Regions from separate parts of the Homo sapiens genome. Here region 1 is linked to region 2. Evidence: fine-mapped expression QTL. Tissue or cell type: whole blood. Region 2 holds a variant in brackets; the other region holds the start of a gene. All regions are shown on one strand. Distances are from middle to middle.

Region 1 (8,331 bases), 43 kb after region 2:
CCTGGCTGGTCTCTCACCTGCTACATTTTGAGTTTTGTCTCGCCTGCTTTGAAAAATCTGTTTCTTGTCTGCTATCAGCTGTCACTGCCCTGCTATATCTTGGTGGCCCCCATCCATCCCTCAAGCAGATGGCAGGTCTAGAAAGTAAAAATGTGTAATGATGGAGATGTTCTATCATCAAAGTGCTGTGCCTTTAGTGTGGACGGGCATATCTCCTTGGATTTTCAAAAGCTTTTTTAGCCCCTTTCTGGATCTCAGAGTTGTTGGAATGAAGAGGTTGCTAGCTACTAGTCCCTTCACCTAAATTCTGACATTTTCAGTATTCTACACCAAAGTATCATCTTACTGAAAGTGCTGGCATCTCCTTCATCTATAAGCCAAACAACAGTTGTTTTTTTGTTTTTTTTAAAAAACAAAACTACAGTTTTCGATAAGATGAAGAATGAATTTACCTTTCAGGAGAAATGTAAAGCTCAGCACATCGATTTCCAAACTAGAGTTCTACCTTGTGCTAGAAGAGTCAAGCTTACTTTTATACTGAACTGTGCATGGAATTTCCAATTTAAGAGCTCAGTGTGGACTTTTGGTCTGGGCTGCAAAGCACAGTAAAACTGGAATCATATGTTATACCCTATAACCTCCATCCCAATTGAGGCCCTCCCCAAAAGTTCCTTAACTTTTAGCCTTAAGGCTAAAATCGTCTTGTGCCAACTCCTGCAGTCAGTCTAAACACAGGGTTGGCAGGCAAGAGGCAAAGGACCCTAACTGGCAGGGCAGGTCCACCTCCAGGCTCCATGCACTCTGACTTCTTAAGATCTGAGAGATAAAAGGAAACTTCTGTGAGAGAGCTGGAGTGACATTAGCTGGACACTATCTCCTGGTAGGCGTTTTCCTTTCTCAGAAAGGCAGAGGTGTCAAAAGAAAGGGAGAACCCCGCCTGGGGGCAAACTGTGTTTCTGCTTTCCCCTAACCACCTGAAAAAAAAATAATAAATAAACAATGAGATTAAGTCTTACATCCAGAAAAAGATGAGGGAAGAGATGTGGAAAGGAGGCCAAAAGTAAGAGCGTTAAGCTCGAGTTTGGAAAACCATCTCCAAGTGTGAAACAGTAGTTCTAGTTTGCATTACATTTTCTTTTACTTATTTTCTTTTTTTTGAGACGGAGTCTTGCTCTGCCCCCCAGGATGGAGCGCAGTGACGCAATCTCGGGTCACAGCAACCTCTGCCTCCTGGGTTTACGCCATTCTCCTGCCTCAGCCTCCCGAGTAGCTGGGACTACAGGCACCTGCCACCAAGCCTGGCTAATTTTTTTTTTTTTTTTTTTTTTTGCATTTTCAGTAGAGATGGGGTTTCACCGTGTTAGCCAGGATGGTCTTGATCTCCTGACCTCATGATCCGCCCGCCTCGGCCTCCCAAAGTGCTGGGATGACAGGCGTGAGCCACCGCGCCCGGCCTGCATTACATTTTCTGAGTATTGCTGGTGCATTAGGCCCCCCACTGATTTGAATATATTGATACCGTAACCATGAAAATGTATTTGGTTCAGGGGGCATGGGGGAGATAAGGGAGTTACCTAATTTACTGTTTGTACTAACTGGTTTGTTAACTGTCCCCAAAACTGTGATTTCACATGGTCTATCACCACACTAGAGTCATGCGGATTTACTTTCAAAACCATGCTGTAAATAATCTATATGGCTCATCCTCGATTTCCGATACGGCTGTTTCTCTGGTCAAAAAAAAAAAAAAAATCCCATAAAACCTCAGGTAATGCAAGGTAGATCTGGGAGAGATCCTGATAGGCTGGTTCCCAAATCACTGCACTAGTCTATGTATCTCTATCTATCGATCGATAGATAGAATTTTTTTTTTTTTTTTTTTTTGAGATGGAGTCTCACTCTGTAGCCCAGGCTGGAGTGCAGTGGCATGATCTTGGCTCATTGCAACCTCCGCCTCCTGGGTTCAAGCGATTCTCCTGCCTCAGCCTCCTGAGTGGCTGGGACTACAGGTGCACGCCACCACACCCGGCTAATTTTTGTACTCTTGAGTAGAGACGGGGTTTCACCATATTGGTCAGGCTGGTGTCGAACTCCTGACCTCAGGCGATCCGCCCGCCTCGGCCTCCCAAAGTGCTAGAATTACAGGCGTGAGCCACGGCGCCCCGCCTGCATTAGTCTGTATTTACAATACCTGCATTCTAAGCTTTTCAAGCCACTCAGGACCCTTCCTGGCGGAATGTGGGTTCTGGACTTAAGCAGGACCCTAATGGAAATGTGCAGGAATGGGGATCAAGCCATTCAAGGGGCAGTCACTGAAGACCACTTTCACCTTCTTTCTCAGTCCTTTACTTTCTCCCTTAAAGGCAAGGGAGACCATATATGCTTTTCCCCTCACAACATCTAGTGCCTGAAAAATCTGACCAAGACTGCATTTAAAAACTGAAGTGTAAAGGTATTGGTTATAAGAACAAACAGCAACCAGCTTAGCCTGGCTCAGCACTGGCTGCTCTGAAATTTCATTACCAGACAACTGATGCTCTAAAACCATTCCCCACATTGGTTTGCTCTGTGGCTGGATAAGACCCAAACTTTATCCATACAGTAAGTGTCTCTATACTTCACACATATAGGGTTTCCATCAAATCCCTTTATCGAGTCTACAACCCTCTCCAACTTCAAATTCACTCCAATACAAATCTGATTCTAACCATGCCAGCCATTCCAAAATCATCTCCCTTCTAGAGACTACATTGGCTAATCCCTTTGTTAAACCTGAACACAATTCCAGCTGCTTTTATGACTCATTTGGCCAACTAGAGCCCAGTTACTGGATAACATGCATACACCACCAAGCTGAACTAATTAACACCAGAATGCAGTTTTCCACTGAATCTACCAAGGGCCAAGAACTGCTTTTCCCCAAGGTTCTCTCTCTCTGTACTCAACAGACTGGTGTGGTCCAATATGCTGCGGGCATTCTCTTTCATTTATAGGAGTGCCTCCAACTGCGAAATGTGAGAGTATGATGTGGAAAGGTTCTAGAACTAGATTAACGTACACGGGCTCCAGCTTTGCAAGGACAAAGGTGCACATTTTAGGGAATCCAGTATCAGCCCCAACTGCCTCCACTATCAGGTACTGTGCTATGAGTTTTCCAACATTATGAGGGAGACCCGATCTGTCGGGCCCTTCTAACGAGAAGCTTCGATTTGCAAAGGCTAAAGTGCCTTCATCAGGGTGAGAGGTACACCCAGCGAGGCCACACTAGTCCATCTGACCCCAAAGGCCATGTTCCTGAGCGCCGCGCTCACCATCCCGCCTCTGATCTTTTCTCCCTCGGCCCGGCGTCTCCCGAGAGGCAACCCGATCCCGCCGGAAGCCCAAGAAGGGCCTAGGAAGCGGGCGGAGGCGAGAGCCAGGAGAGCACCCGGGATGCCGGCCGCCGGGATGCCGGACGCAGGAGGCGGTGCCCGGGGAGCAGGGGCTCACCTGTAGGCGGCCACGGCCCGAGTCTGCAGGTATTTCTGGGCGGTCATGACTCCCACGAAGAGAAAGTTCCTGTCGCGCGGGCCGCCATCTGGGTCCGAGCCGGGCGGCCAGAGCTGCGCCCCGCGCGCATCGCCGCGCGCCCCGCCGGCCTGGGAAGCCGCCGCCTGCCCGGACCGGCAGCCCTCGGGGCTGGCGCGGCGCCGTGGGCCCGCTCGCTTCAGCTCGGAAGCCCGGGGCAGGACGAGCCGCGAGGCCAGCACGAAGCCCAGGACGAGCCCGAGCAGCACGCTGAGCCAGGCGCGCCGGCCGCGCGCGGCCATGCCCGCGCCGCTCCGCCCGCCGGGCCGCCGCCGCAGGCTCCGCGCGCCCTCAGCCCGCTGCCCCCGCCCGCGGAGGCCAGCCCGCCCTAGCGCCGCGAGGCCCGGCCCGGGCAGCGCCGCCGCCGCCGCGGGCCCGCCGCGCCCATCGCGGCCCCCGAGCCGCCCGCAGGCCCCGCGCCGGCGCTTTGTTCCGCACGCCCGCCCCCGCCGCCGCGGCCTGCGCCTTTAAGAGGGGACCATGCCCGGCGCGCGCTAGCGGCGGCTCGGGCGCGAGGTGGCGGCGGCTCCTCCCGCTCGCGCGCGGGGACGCGGGGCCGGCACGACGGCGACGACGGCGGCGGCAGACGAGTCCGGGCTCCCGTCCCGCCCTGCCCGCGTCCTCCGGCTGGCTGGGCTCGGTTCGCACGGCGCCTGTCCCCGTCCTCTTCGTAGCCGGCGCCGCCGCCGCAGCTGCACATCCTCCGGCTTAGCTCGCCATTGCAACAGGAGCCCCTCACGTCACGCACGGCGCGTTATGAAGTGGCCCCGCCGGCGGCGAGCCGTGGCCCCTCTCGGGATCCGTCCGCGCCGCGCGATTGGCGCAAAAGTGAATGAGGGGCGGTTCACGTGGCCGAAGTTTGACCAAAAAAAAAAAAAGCCCTCTCGGGCGCCCCGCCCGCGCGGTCTGCGACTGGAGCTGGCGGGCGGAGGGGGCGTGGGCCCCCGCCCGGCGCCCGCGGGGCCGGAGCTGCCCGTGATCCGCACCTAGCACCCGGCGCAAGGGCGTCCCCGCGAGGACGGCCGCTTCCCGCACCGCGGCGCCCGGGCGCGAATCTCGGGAGCCAGCCTTGCAGTGGGGGCTTCTCGGCCCCCAGACTCCACGCTGCGCACGTTCCTCCCGCACGGGCCGTCCTCGCTGCACCCCACGGCCACGCCCTTCCTGCCGCCGGGCCGGCCCCGCGCTCCCGGCCCCGCGCTCCCGACCACACTGCAGCTTTGTCCGCAGTCCCGCGGCCGCACGCAGGGAACAGCCGTCCCGGAGCCCTGGGGACGTGCGCGCCTGCGAGTGGACCGTGAATTCAGTTACCTTGTTCCCTGTTGCTAGTTTCTACGCTAAATAAGAAGAAGAAGAAGAAAAAGCCATCTTTAATACTTAAGGTCCACGCTTCTCATACAGTACTAGCATTTAATGGATCTCGAAGACAAGGAAAATGAAGTTAATGCCCTGGATGGTAAACCCTACTTTCATTTACATACTGTGTGGGCAGATAGCCGGCTAGTACCCCCAGCCTGGGACTTTGTCCCTACTTTAATATAGTCCGTCTGTAAAAGTGCCGTGGATTTCTAAAGACGGATTTTGGGTCCCAGATCCTCTACTCTGGATTTTAAGTTTTATACATTTCCTCTGCAATACTTCAGCTAAGGCAGCAAAAGCGGAGGTCTCCATACAACGAAAGTTTGTGTAGAGTTTCAGTCTTGTTACTTAGTCACCAGTATATTGGGGTTTTCTAATGAAACTTTTGAAGGGCAAAGTGTTTCCCTGGGCCTGAGAAGTTACCTGCATTGAATCAAATAAACACATGCCTGGGGCAATCCTTGGATCTTTCTTCATTGTTGACCAAATGGTTGAAATACTATCACACAGTTTAAAATGCCTGTGGGAGCTTCAGATACCTTCTCGGCACCTGAATGGTGGTCACTCTTGTTTATTCTTTGGATATTACCACTTTCTTTGACACTTGTGATTTATATTAAAAATAGTTCATTACCTACCTTCCCACAGAGCCCCTCCCTAAGGGGTGATCCACATCTAAAAATAAAATACTCATTATGCAGTGAATACAGGATTCCAGCAGTGGTCTTGGGAAAAATACAGAACATACAACCATGAATTACAGGCTCGAAAACCATCGAAAAAGGTTTCCACTAAGACCATAAACCACAAATGCCGAGGAGTCACCAGATCCCCCAAATTCAGCAGCCCCATCATTCACAGTGATTTACATGAAGTACGAATCTGGCCAGATTCAGATGTTCAATTTTGTAGCATATTCAACGATTTCAGTATTTTCTAACCTGCTTTAGACTTACCTAGTTTTCTTCGAAACTAGTGTCCAGTGAAAAGCTGGCCGGGCGCGGTGGCTCACGCCTGTAAACCCAGCACTCTGGGAGGCTGAGGCGGGCGGATCGCCTGAGGTCAGGAGTTCGAGACCAACCTGACCAACATGGAGAAACCCCGACTCTACTAAAAATACAAAATTAGCCGGGGGTGGTGGTGCATGCCTGTAATCCCAGCTACTCGGGAGGCTGAGGCAGGAGAATCGCTTGAACCCGGGAGGTGGAGGTTGCTGTGAGCCGAGATCGTGCCATTGCATTGCACTGCAGCCTGGGCGACAACAGCGAAACTCCGTCTCAAGGAAAAAAAAAAAAAAAGTATATAAATATCTGATGGGAATAATATTCTGAGGATGCCAAATATTTTGTCCTCCTCAATATCCTGGTTCCTAGTTGTCCCTCAGTTCCTAGGTTAACAGTCTCACCTGTCTCACCTGCAGGCTTAATGGGGGTCTTTCGTAATGTAGAAAGGATACCCTTTTCTTTGTAAAGGCTGAGCCTGAGGGCTTACAATTCCCTGGAGAAGGAGAGTAAGACATACGGGAACTCCCTCTGGGAGAAGAGGGATATGCCAGGCCAAGAGAGGGTTGGAAGGAGAAGAGAGAAACTGAGGTCCTGTAGAAGTCTGCCAGGGGCAGGGACCAATTCCGGCATGCAGCCTAGGAGCAGGAGGGCAAGCTCTAGCACATCTGGAAGGAGCAGCTGGATTGTTGAGCTGAGGCAGTTCTCCTGGGGAAGAATCCAAAAGTGTCCCAGTAAGGGGCCTGGCTCAGGAGACAAGGCTATCCTAAGTGGGGATTTCACAGCCAGTAGCAAATACCTGGAATCAAGAACTTCAGTGACAGCCAGAGACCCAAACAGCTGGACAGGACTGGTACCCCCAGTATGAAGGCCTGTCCCATGCCCAGCCCCACTAGTCAATACCAGCAAGGAGCCAGGGAGGACAACGAGGGTCTGGAACATCTGCCCCCAATGCACACACATGCGTCCTTCCCCACAGCCCCCTGGAGGCCAAGGCTGTCCTCATCCTAAAGCCCCCTCACCCTAAGTAATTTTTAAAGGTAAGGAGTAGGCAGGGTGATTCGCATTTATAGGGATTTCACTGCAGGGAGCTGAGGAAAGACTTTTCATGTTCCGGGCTTCTTGATTTCACTGTGCTACTGGCCTTCTCTGTTGAGGGAATCATTGACCATTTTTCTCATCATAAAAGAAGGGGAGGTATTAACTGTTACCAGGAACACTTGTAAGGAAGCCCTTAACTGTAGTTATTCCATGAAAGTCCCAATGGCACAGGAGTGGCCCAAGAGGTGGGCTGTGATGGATCAGGGATCAGGAGTGTGGGACCGAGTCTGAGCTCTGCGTGGAGTGAGTTCCACCTGGAGGGGCTCCGGGAGTCCGGCTCTGTCTCCAAATGAGTCTTTCTGCTGGATCACGTTAAACGGTCCTCCATAGTGATTCCAGACCAGTATTCAGAAATGTGTTCAAAAATCCCAGATCACTTAACTTCCCTTCTGTGTTCATGAGTGTGACTCTTTATGACACATTATTAAAGTTCATCGCCACCTACCTTACTGAGCATTTTCTCACAGATGGCAACTTTGTTCCCACACACTTCACATTTCTTTTCTGTTGCTAATACATTGAACGTCTGTTACCAGTATAACATTTCATATAATTTGCAGCAATTTCTTGGAAACCCTTGGTAAATACCTCAATTGTTTGTTGGCAGCAAGCCTCAAACGACCGACAGAGTTCCCTGTTAGAGCTTCTTTAAAGATGAAGCCTCTCCACTCACGCCTCAAACAGGGGTCCTTGGAAAAAGTGGTAATTTTTATTAAAGAAAAAAAACTTTCAGAAAGGCCTGTTTTAAGAAACAGTGAATGCTGAGGAGTTATAATCATCCATCCTTTCAGAAGGTTCTGTTCACTGCCTGCAAAGAAGAAAATCTATAATGACCACTTTACTAATATTGCCACTTAACCTCTGTTAACCCAATAAAACACTGCTTCATTATGAATGCTGCTATTAAACTTACAAGCAAGATCCTCATGAGGTTGTTAATTTCGCTCACTATTTCCTTCTGTTTGTAGCATTTCCAGTCAGATGCAGGAAAGGGCAAGTGAGCAGGGCTCACGTTCTGGTTTCACACACTGGCCTATTCCAGCCCTGGGTGTTCTGCAAAGTCCTTCAGTGCTTATCAGCTGTGTACACCGTTTCCATCAGACGCTGAGTCAGTGTGAGTGCTTCTCACACTGTGTGTGTGTGTGTGTGTGTGTGTGTGTGTGTGAGCTTTCATGTGTACGATAGAGACACAAAAGAGATTTAAGTTCAGTATAACCATGTGGACCAGCCAGATGGGATGTGATCTTCCTAACTAGAAAACGCTGGGTGCCGCCAGCACAGGCACTACTGGGAACCAGCCTGAATG
Region 2 (8,331 bases):
GACTAGCCTGGCCAATATGGCGAAACCCCATCTCTACTAAAAATACAAAAATTAGCTGGGCGTGGTGGCGTGCACCTGTAATCCCAGCTACTCGGGAGGGTGAGGCAGGAGAATCACTTGAACCCGGGAGATGGAGGGTGCAGTGAGTCGAGATCGTGCCATTGCACTCTAGACTGGGCAGTAAGAGCGAAACTCCATCTCAAATAATAATAATAATAATAATAATAATAATAATAATGTACACTTATAGAGAAAATGATAAAGCTGATGTGGTAAATATTAATAATCAGGGAATTTGGGTGAAAGACTTATAGGAGTTTTCTATTAAGTTAAATTTTTTCAAAATAAAAATTGCCCCCCAAAAAACAGTGGTTAAAAATGACCATCCAGCTGGGCATGGTGGCTCACACCTGTAATCCCAGCACTTTGGGAGGCCAAGGTAGGCAGATCACTTGAGGACAGGGGTTCAAGACCAGCCTGACTGACATAATGAAACCCCATTTCTACTAAAACTACAAAAAATTAGCTGGGGATGGTGGCACACACCTATAATCCCAGCTGTTCAGGAGGCTGAGGCACAAGAATTGCTTGAACCCAGGAGCCGAAAGTTGCAGTGAGCCAAGGTCACACCACAGCATTCCAGCCTGGGCACTAGAACGAGACTCCATCCCCCCGCCACACACACAAAAAAGACCATCTGGCAGAGTTAAGAATACTGTCACTTGGCGAAGATCATAGTAACTAATTTTTCGCAATACTACATACTCTATCCACCAGCAAATCATGAAAGTATGGCTAACAGATTTCTAAACAGCTCTTTAACTACTCAGAGAGATTTTCAGAAGCATAAAGCAAGAAGTTTTTCCTCTGTAATCTATTTTTATTAAGCTTAAAGTTCTAATATTTTATCTTTTTTTTTCTTTTTTTAAAGTAATCAACATGGCAATACCTCATATGCTTGAGGTTTCCTGGACAAAACCCTATTACTATTTCTGTCTCTAATTCATCCTTTTTGCCTGCTGTGCTGTGGGCATGACATCAATTTATTATAACCAATAATTTCCAGTGCCTCCCAGTCACTAAATTGCCACCACACACACATGATTCAGAGGAAAGAAACTAGAACCAGCATACTCTTCAGTTGTTTAAGAAAAAGCCTGGTCTTTATATTTCCCCATTTATATAAACAAGCTAGTAATCAATTGACATAGACTCCACAATGTTTCCTGATAACTAGAGAAAACACACAGGTCTACCAGATGTTTATAGCTACTTGTGAAAAGACACATACCCAAACCTGAAGAGTACTGTGATCACAAAACTGAGCTTGATTTTTCTACTAACGACTATTAGTATTAGCAGCCTGACATTTAAACACACAAACCCATACATGCTTATTCTGCTCTAAGTGAAGAATTTTAATTTTGAAGATTGTTGGCCGGGCGTGGTGGCTCACACCTGTAATCCCAGTACTTTGGGAGGCTGAGGTGGGTGGATCACGAGATCAGGAGATCGAGACCATCCTGGATAAAACGGTGAAACCCCGTCTCTACTAAAAATACAAAAAATTAGCTGGGCGTGGTGGTGGGCGCCCGTAGTCCCAGCTACTCAGGGGGGCTGAGGCAGGAGAATGGCGTGAACCCAGGAGGCGGAGCTTGCAGTGAGCCGAGATAGCGCCACTACACTCCAGCCTGGGCGAAAGAGAGAGACTCCGTCTCAAAAAAAAAAAAAGAAGATTGTTTATTAATTTGCTCTACCCCATGATCCTGGTATGGTAGTGTTTTCTATTTCAAGTTCCTATAGACAGTAATACGCTCCATCACTAAGGCAGCAGGATTCCAGGACATTTGATTTTTGATATATGCTTCATAACGTTTGCAATACTAAATGAGAAGTTTAATTTCAAACTCCAATCTCTGTCTGCTCTCCTTTCTCTCCCCGGGTGAGCCTCTGAGGCGAGAGGTTTGATTCAGGAGATAAGACTAGGGCTGCACAGGCATGGTGTGCCTCGTGCGCCACGGAGTGAAACTAGACAGACAAGGGAAAACCCACCAGGTCTCGAGTCGGCAGGAGAACCAACGACCAGGTATTTGTTTCTAAAGACTCATATGATCCACTGAAGAGAACCACTGAGTCAGAGGCAGGGGTGGAGGTCGCAGTGAGGGAGGACATGGCACACTACCCACAGGCAGGGGTAGCAGCTCCCACTGTGGGGTTAGTCATCAGCTGGGGCTCTGAAGGCGGTGACGTGCTAAGTGACAGATCACCACCAAGATCCGTTTCCCATGAAAACACTTTGGAAAGAAGCTTTTATGTGGGCTCACTTTATACAAATAACACTTCAGAAAATAAACGAACACTCATTAAATTATGCACCAAAAGAAAGTAAACTGTGGAAGCTAGAAGAGACAGCAGTGTTAGATATTAATTAATAGGCTACAGAGAAGAAGAAATACATTTATCATCTGTGAGAAAACATGTAGGTTTGTCATTTTATTTTCCCTACACAGAAGCAGCCATAATGGCAGAGAGAGTGAACAAATATTCCCAGGGTTTTGGGGCACAGCCTAAAATAGTCCTCCAAAAAATACCAAATTTCTTTTCTCATTTTTAATCATAAAAATTCACACTAATTTGCAATGATACTCTAGGACACCCATGTTTATCTCATAAAAAAAGTCTCTCTCCCAGACCTCAGGTAAAATTAATGTTCTAGGAACGTATGCCACGCATTTCCACTGGCTATCCAGTACCACTCTCGCGTGTCAGCACATTCCAAAATTAGTTTAATTTAAAAGAAACAAGACCAAACAAAACAAAGCCAAAAGGAAACAAACAAAACCTAAAAGGGGAAAAATCCTACTAAGATAACTGAAACAAATATTGTCTAATATATTTCTCAGAAAGGGTCTACTCTTGACAAATGTTTTTTATATTAACACAGCATTTGCAGTCAAAAGAAAAATAAGCCACTCACTATCCAAAATGGGAATAAAAGTCTTTTCTTCTATACCTCATTTTTGGAAATAAAAAGTCTTTGGCTGAAAGCAAAGGAAAGAGTTACGTCCACATAACCCTTCAGAATGGGAAGAATCAGCGTCACCAAGTCTTCACTTCGCCAACTAACAACAGTATTTTAAAAATTGTTCATTCTGATTTTTAGAACCAACTCATGATGCTGGCTATCTGTGAACAACAATACCTTCTAGTATGTTATATAATATTTCATTTCAATGTTAACAGGATATTTTTCTTAAATTTCCAGGTGCCTCTCTCATATGCTCTGTATCTGTTAATTCATCAAACACTCAAGTGCCTCATATGTTAACCTCTAAATGGAATACAGAAATAATTAAGACAAGACCCAATCTACTAGAAAAAAAAAGTTGAATATTTGGCACAAATAAACACTCAAAGAAAATAGATCTTCCAGAATATACTATCCAAGCAAATATTCAGTCTTGCTAAATTTACCAACAGGTTTTTAAAATCCTCTGAGAATGAGGGCTGCGTTGCCATGTGACACAGGTAGTACCTGGAATCTAGTAACTAAAATTGAAAAGCTTATTTCAAGATGGAGTTAGGCTTCTTGCCCCTGCCCCACCCGTTGTCCTGAAGTAAAAAGCCACTAGTGGGGTCAAGCAAGATAGGGTCCCCAGATGGGGTGAGGGTGGGCTGGTGCAGTGGCCCAGCCTTGGGGCGTCAGGTAGGCCGCCAACCCTTGAGTTGAGTCACATAGGGAAGGCACCGGGAAGGAGGCATTGCAACAGAGGATTGCTCACTTACAG[C/T]GGAAACTGATGCAGTAAGTAAATGTGGCTGAGGCCAATGAGCAGCTAGATTTCTCAACTGTCAAATAAAGCAATTACAAATACAGAAAGGGAGAGAAGAGGAAGAACCCTTTGGGGTTGAAATGGGATTTGGAGTATCAGGGGGAACCCAAGGACACACACACACATGCACATTTTCCCCTGGTCAGCCCACTGCTCAGGAGTGGGCCAGCCAACACCCACAGCAACGAGCACACCCACAGTCTAGATCTTGGCTTCTAAATGTTTTCCACTAAAAAGAACCAGAGACTCTTCGAGAGATGGCAGACTGCAAGGCTAGGGCAGGGAAAAAATAACAGCCTGAAACATCTTAGTATGCCAGAAAGAAATTGCTCAAACAGTTATAGGGGCATATCAAAAAGATACAGAAGGCCAGTCATGGTGCCTCATGCCTGGAATCCCAGCACTTTGGGAACCCAAGGCGGGTGGATCATTTGAGGTCAGGAGTTCGAGACCAGCCTGACCAACATGGTGAAACCCCGTCTCTACTAAAAATACAAAAATTAGCCAGGTATGGTGGCGGACGCCTGTAATACCAACTACTCGGGAGGTAGAGGCATGAGAATTGCTTGAACCCAGGAGGCGGAGGTTGCAGTGAACCGAGATCGTGCCACTGCACTCCAGCCTGGGTGACAGAGCAAGGCTCCATCTCAAAAAAAAAAAAAAAAGAGATACAGAAGCCTGCAACAAACAGCAGCCACTGGACACGTCTAAGGTGATGTAAACATGGAAATGTATAATAATGGTAAGAGATTATAACTCATTAAATAAAATAGGAATACAAGAGTGTATACTCATACAAGCACACACATAAGTAAATGGGAAAAGGAACAAGCTTTTCCTTACTTTCAACTAATAAAAGTAGAAAGAATAACTGGATTAGAAAATCACCATTTAGCAACCATCACACTATTCATTTATTCTGCCAAGAAACATCAATTAATGCTAAAACTATTGGGGGTGGGAGTTTGATGAGGAACAGGATATTTACAGTCTCTCCACAATGACACTCACTAAATATAAAAAGACAGAGAGTAACTTTACAGTGGAGAAACCTGGCCAGGTTTTCCTAATCACTCTACCTTAGTTAAATGACCAAAGTTAATACTACCAATAACAGAGCAAACCAAAATCACAAACTGTTAGGATACAAAGAGAACACAGCAACGCTTCTGTAGTATCTGCACACTTGAACCTAATCATGAGAAAATAAATGCAAACTGATAAACATTCCACTGGTCTGTAAGCTCCAGAAGTGTCAAGGTCATAAAAATCAAGAAAAGGATGGAGACCTGTTTCAGACTGAAAGTGACTAAGGACATAATGCCAGTGTTCGTAAAATGCCATCCGTTTTAATAAAACTTCAACTTATACATAGACTTACGTAAGAAGAATAAAGCGATATATACCTGTATGCCGTGAAGCTTTTTGTTTTAAGGAAAAAGGGTTAAGTAAAAACCTTTATCACTGAGCTTCAGAGACTGGAAATTGTGATATGAATTCAATATTCCATGGGAAAAAAAAACCTGCTAAACAAAAATAACAAATAGCAGGATCAGTTGCTATGCAACAATAAGAAATGTTTGCATGAAGTCAGCAGAGGAGGAGAAAGGGCAGTAAAAATGAATCTTTCTATATTTTCTATGTTTAATTCTCAGGGCAGGTTATAAATAGTGAATCAGAAACTGTTCCAACAGACAGGTATTTTCTTAGAAGATACATAGTGGCATTCTTCAGTTTCTTAGTGTGGAAGATGTGAGGACAACACTATAAGCTAAAAAGAAATCTACTGGCATGTGACTGATCTGTACTGAATGACAACTGAAATGGCAAGTTCAACACAGAAAGTATACAAAAAGTATACAAGTGCCTTAAATTTTGTAATGAAGACTCTTTGAGGTTACTACAAGTTAGTGTCGTTAAAATACTGAGTAAGTTTCTTAAAGCACTTGTCTTCAACTCTTAGTCCGTTATTTCTCTTCCTGCCTACTGATTAACCTTGGTAAAACTTTCTGAATGTTTCTAGGAAAAAGCATGGAAAAGAAAAAAACAAAGTTCAAAAACAAGATCTGTAACCTTGGAATATGATTTGATTATAATCACTCACTAAACAGATTAGCCAGTACCTTTTATTGTCAGATTTTAAAAATACTTGGCCACAGGGAGTTAGTAAGGCCTATTATAGCCACAATTCTGCATAATGTGCAAAGCAAAAGTGCTTAGCAGAAAAAGAGGCTGAAGGCACCATCACACCTTAAACATAAACCTCTTAAGACTTTATCTTCCTGTCATTGCAAAAACCCTACATTTAATAGAAAAACTAATCCCCATTTAAACAACGTCTAGAAGAGATACAGAGACACTAGATGGATACTGGAAAAGTAATGCTTTGAATCTCAAATCCTATTTTCTTGAGTTTTAAAATTACAAATAGTTTTTTTTAGTCAAAGAAAACTAGAATCTAAGTTGTGATTTTAAAGAAATCATAATCAAGAAGACTGCGAAATGGAGGAAAGTGGAGGGAGAAAAGGAGAACTGCATCTTAAGAGCAGGGGTGGGCCAGAAATAGACCAAGTCTTAGAAAAATGAAGCAGCTGATTCAAAACTCAGCTCAATATCTGATTGGATTAAGGTTACGTGGTCCAACCTTAACTGTCTGCCAGAAGCAAAATTATATCCTCACTGGAGGACAGTAATCATATCCAAAGACATTCCAGTTTTTTTTAAATACAATGTTTGTGATTCAGTCAAAAGCTACTAAACATGCCAGCTGTTTAAGACCAAGTGACTGAAAACCAAGAAAAACAGACAAGAGAAACCTATACTTGTCAGATATGGGCTTTGAAATAATGTGATTAATATGTCCAGGAAACAGATGATAAGATGTAGAAGTTTAGCAGACAATATTAAACTATTAAAAATATCAAATGAAATAACTAAAATTAAAATACACAGCTAAAAGTTAAAATGCAATAGGTTTAGGCTGGGCACAGTGGCTCAGGCCTGTAATCCCAGCACTTGGGGAGGCTGAGGAGGGTGGATCACCTGAGGTCAGGAGTTCATGACCAGCCTGGCCAACATGATAAAGCCCTGTCTCTACTAAAAATACAAAAATTAGCCGGGCGTGGTGGCAGGCACCTCTAATCCCAGCTACCTGGGAGGCTGAGGCAGAAAAATCACTTGAACCTGGGAGATGGAGGTTGCAGTGAGCTGAGATTGCACCACTGCACTCCAGCCTGTGCGAAAGAGCGAGACTTAGTCTCAAAAAACAAACAAAGCACAATAGGTGTGATGGCAGATTAGATACAACTGAAGAGATATTAGTATAATGAAAGGTGTGTCAGACGGAAAAAATCCAGAGATCTTAGAGTGAAAAAGAATACTGAAAATAACATAAAACACGTATAGGACTCAGTGAAAATGTGTAATATATATGTAACTAGAGACCCAGAAACAGATGCAAAAATGGGACAGAAGCAATATTTATAAAAATAATGGCTGAGAAATTTCTAATACTGACGAAAGATGTAAACCCACAGATTTAAGAAGTTCAGTGAATCACAGCTGAATAAATACAAAGACAGTATAACTGGGCACATCATAATAGGACTACTCAAAATCAAAGAGAAAAAAAATTTCTATTATTTGACTATCAAGGGAGAAATAATCCTAAATACAGAGAAAAGATAAAATACCTTCAAAGAAAAAACAATACGACTTGAGAGGTGATTTCATCAGAAAATAACTGAAATCAGAAGGCAATGGAATGATATCTTCCAAGCGCTCAAGAATAGTAAGACGAACAAACAAACAAAAAACCCCTGCCAATCTGGAATTCTATACCTAGAAAATATATCATCCAAAAAAAAAAAAAAAGTAGGTGGCTTAAAGACAGGAGAACAACTTCAAGACTTGGGGTAGGCAAAAGTCATGGACAAAAGGTGTGAACAGACACTGCACAAAAGACAGGCACATGATCAATAAGCACATGGAAAGGCACTCAGTATCACTAGTCATAGGGAAAACGCAAACTGAAATCACAATGAAGTAAATGCACTACACACCCATCAGAATGTCTAAAACCATAAAAGACTGAGAATGCCAAACAATGATGAGGACATGAAATAACCAGAACTCTCATACGGTGCTGTTGGGAGTTAATAAGATACGGCTACTTTGGGGAAAAAACACATGGCAGTTTCTTATGAAATTAAGTATATACCTATCCTCTGACCGAGCAATTCCACTTCTAGGTATTTATTCAAAAAAATATTAAAAAATGTCCACAAACAAAATCTTGTTCAAGAGTAGTCAAAGCAACTTTGTTCATAATAGTAAAAAAACTAGAAATACTCCAGGTGAAGTTTACTAAGCAATAAAAAGGAATGAGCAACTGATACACACGACTGTATGGATGAGCCTCAGAAACATGCTCAAGTGAGAGAAGCCTTATACAAGAGTCCACACGTATGATTCCATTTATATTAAGTTAGAGGACAGAATC

Evidence for each region.
Region 1: it holds the start of CHSY1, and the variant in region 2 is fine-mapped to the expression of CHSY1 in whole blood (TOPMed, PIP above 0.99).

Annotation. Positions count from the first base shown.
Region 1 is chr15:101,247,648-101,255,978 of GRCh38, forward strand. It overlaps CHSY1 (chondroitin sulfate synthase 1), which reads right to left and starts at 4,401. Exons shown (of 3, transcript NM_014918.5): 1 at 3,490-4,401. The coding sequence starts at 3,809. It overlaps LOC107984727 (a long non-coding RNA gene), which reads right to left and starts at 8,287. Exons shown (of 2, transcript XR_001751746.2): 1 at 7,939-8,287; 2 at 7,713-7,833. RefSeq lists silencers at 3,386-3,815, 4,006-4,315, 4,486-4,865.
Region 2 is chr15:101,204,234-101,212,564 of GRCh38, forward strand. All of the region lies in intron 2 of CHSY1 (chondroitin sulfate synthase 1), which reads right to left. Among named protein-coding and RNA genes, the nearest start is that of CHSY1, 44 kb to the right of the region's middle. RefSeq lists a silencer at 1,496-1,661. The variant C/T (reference allele first, on the strand shown) is at 3,789.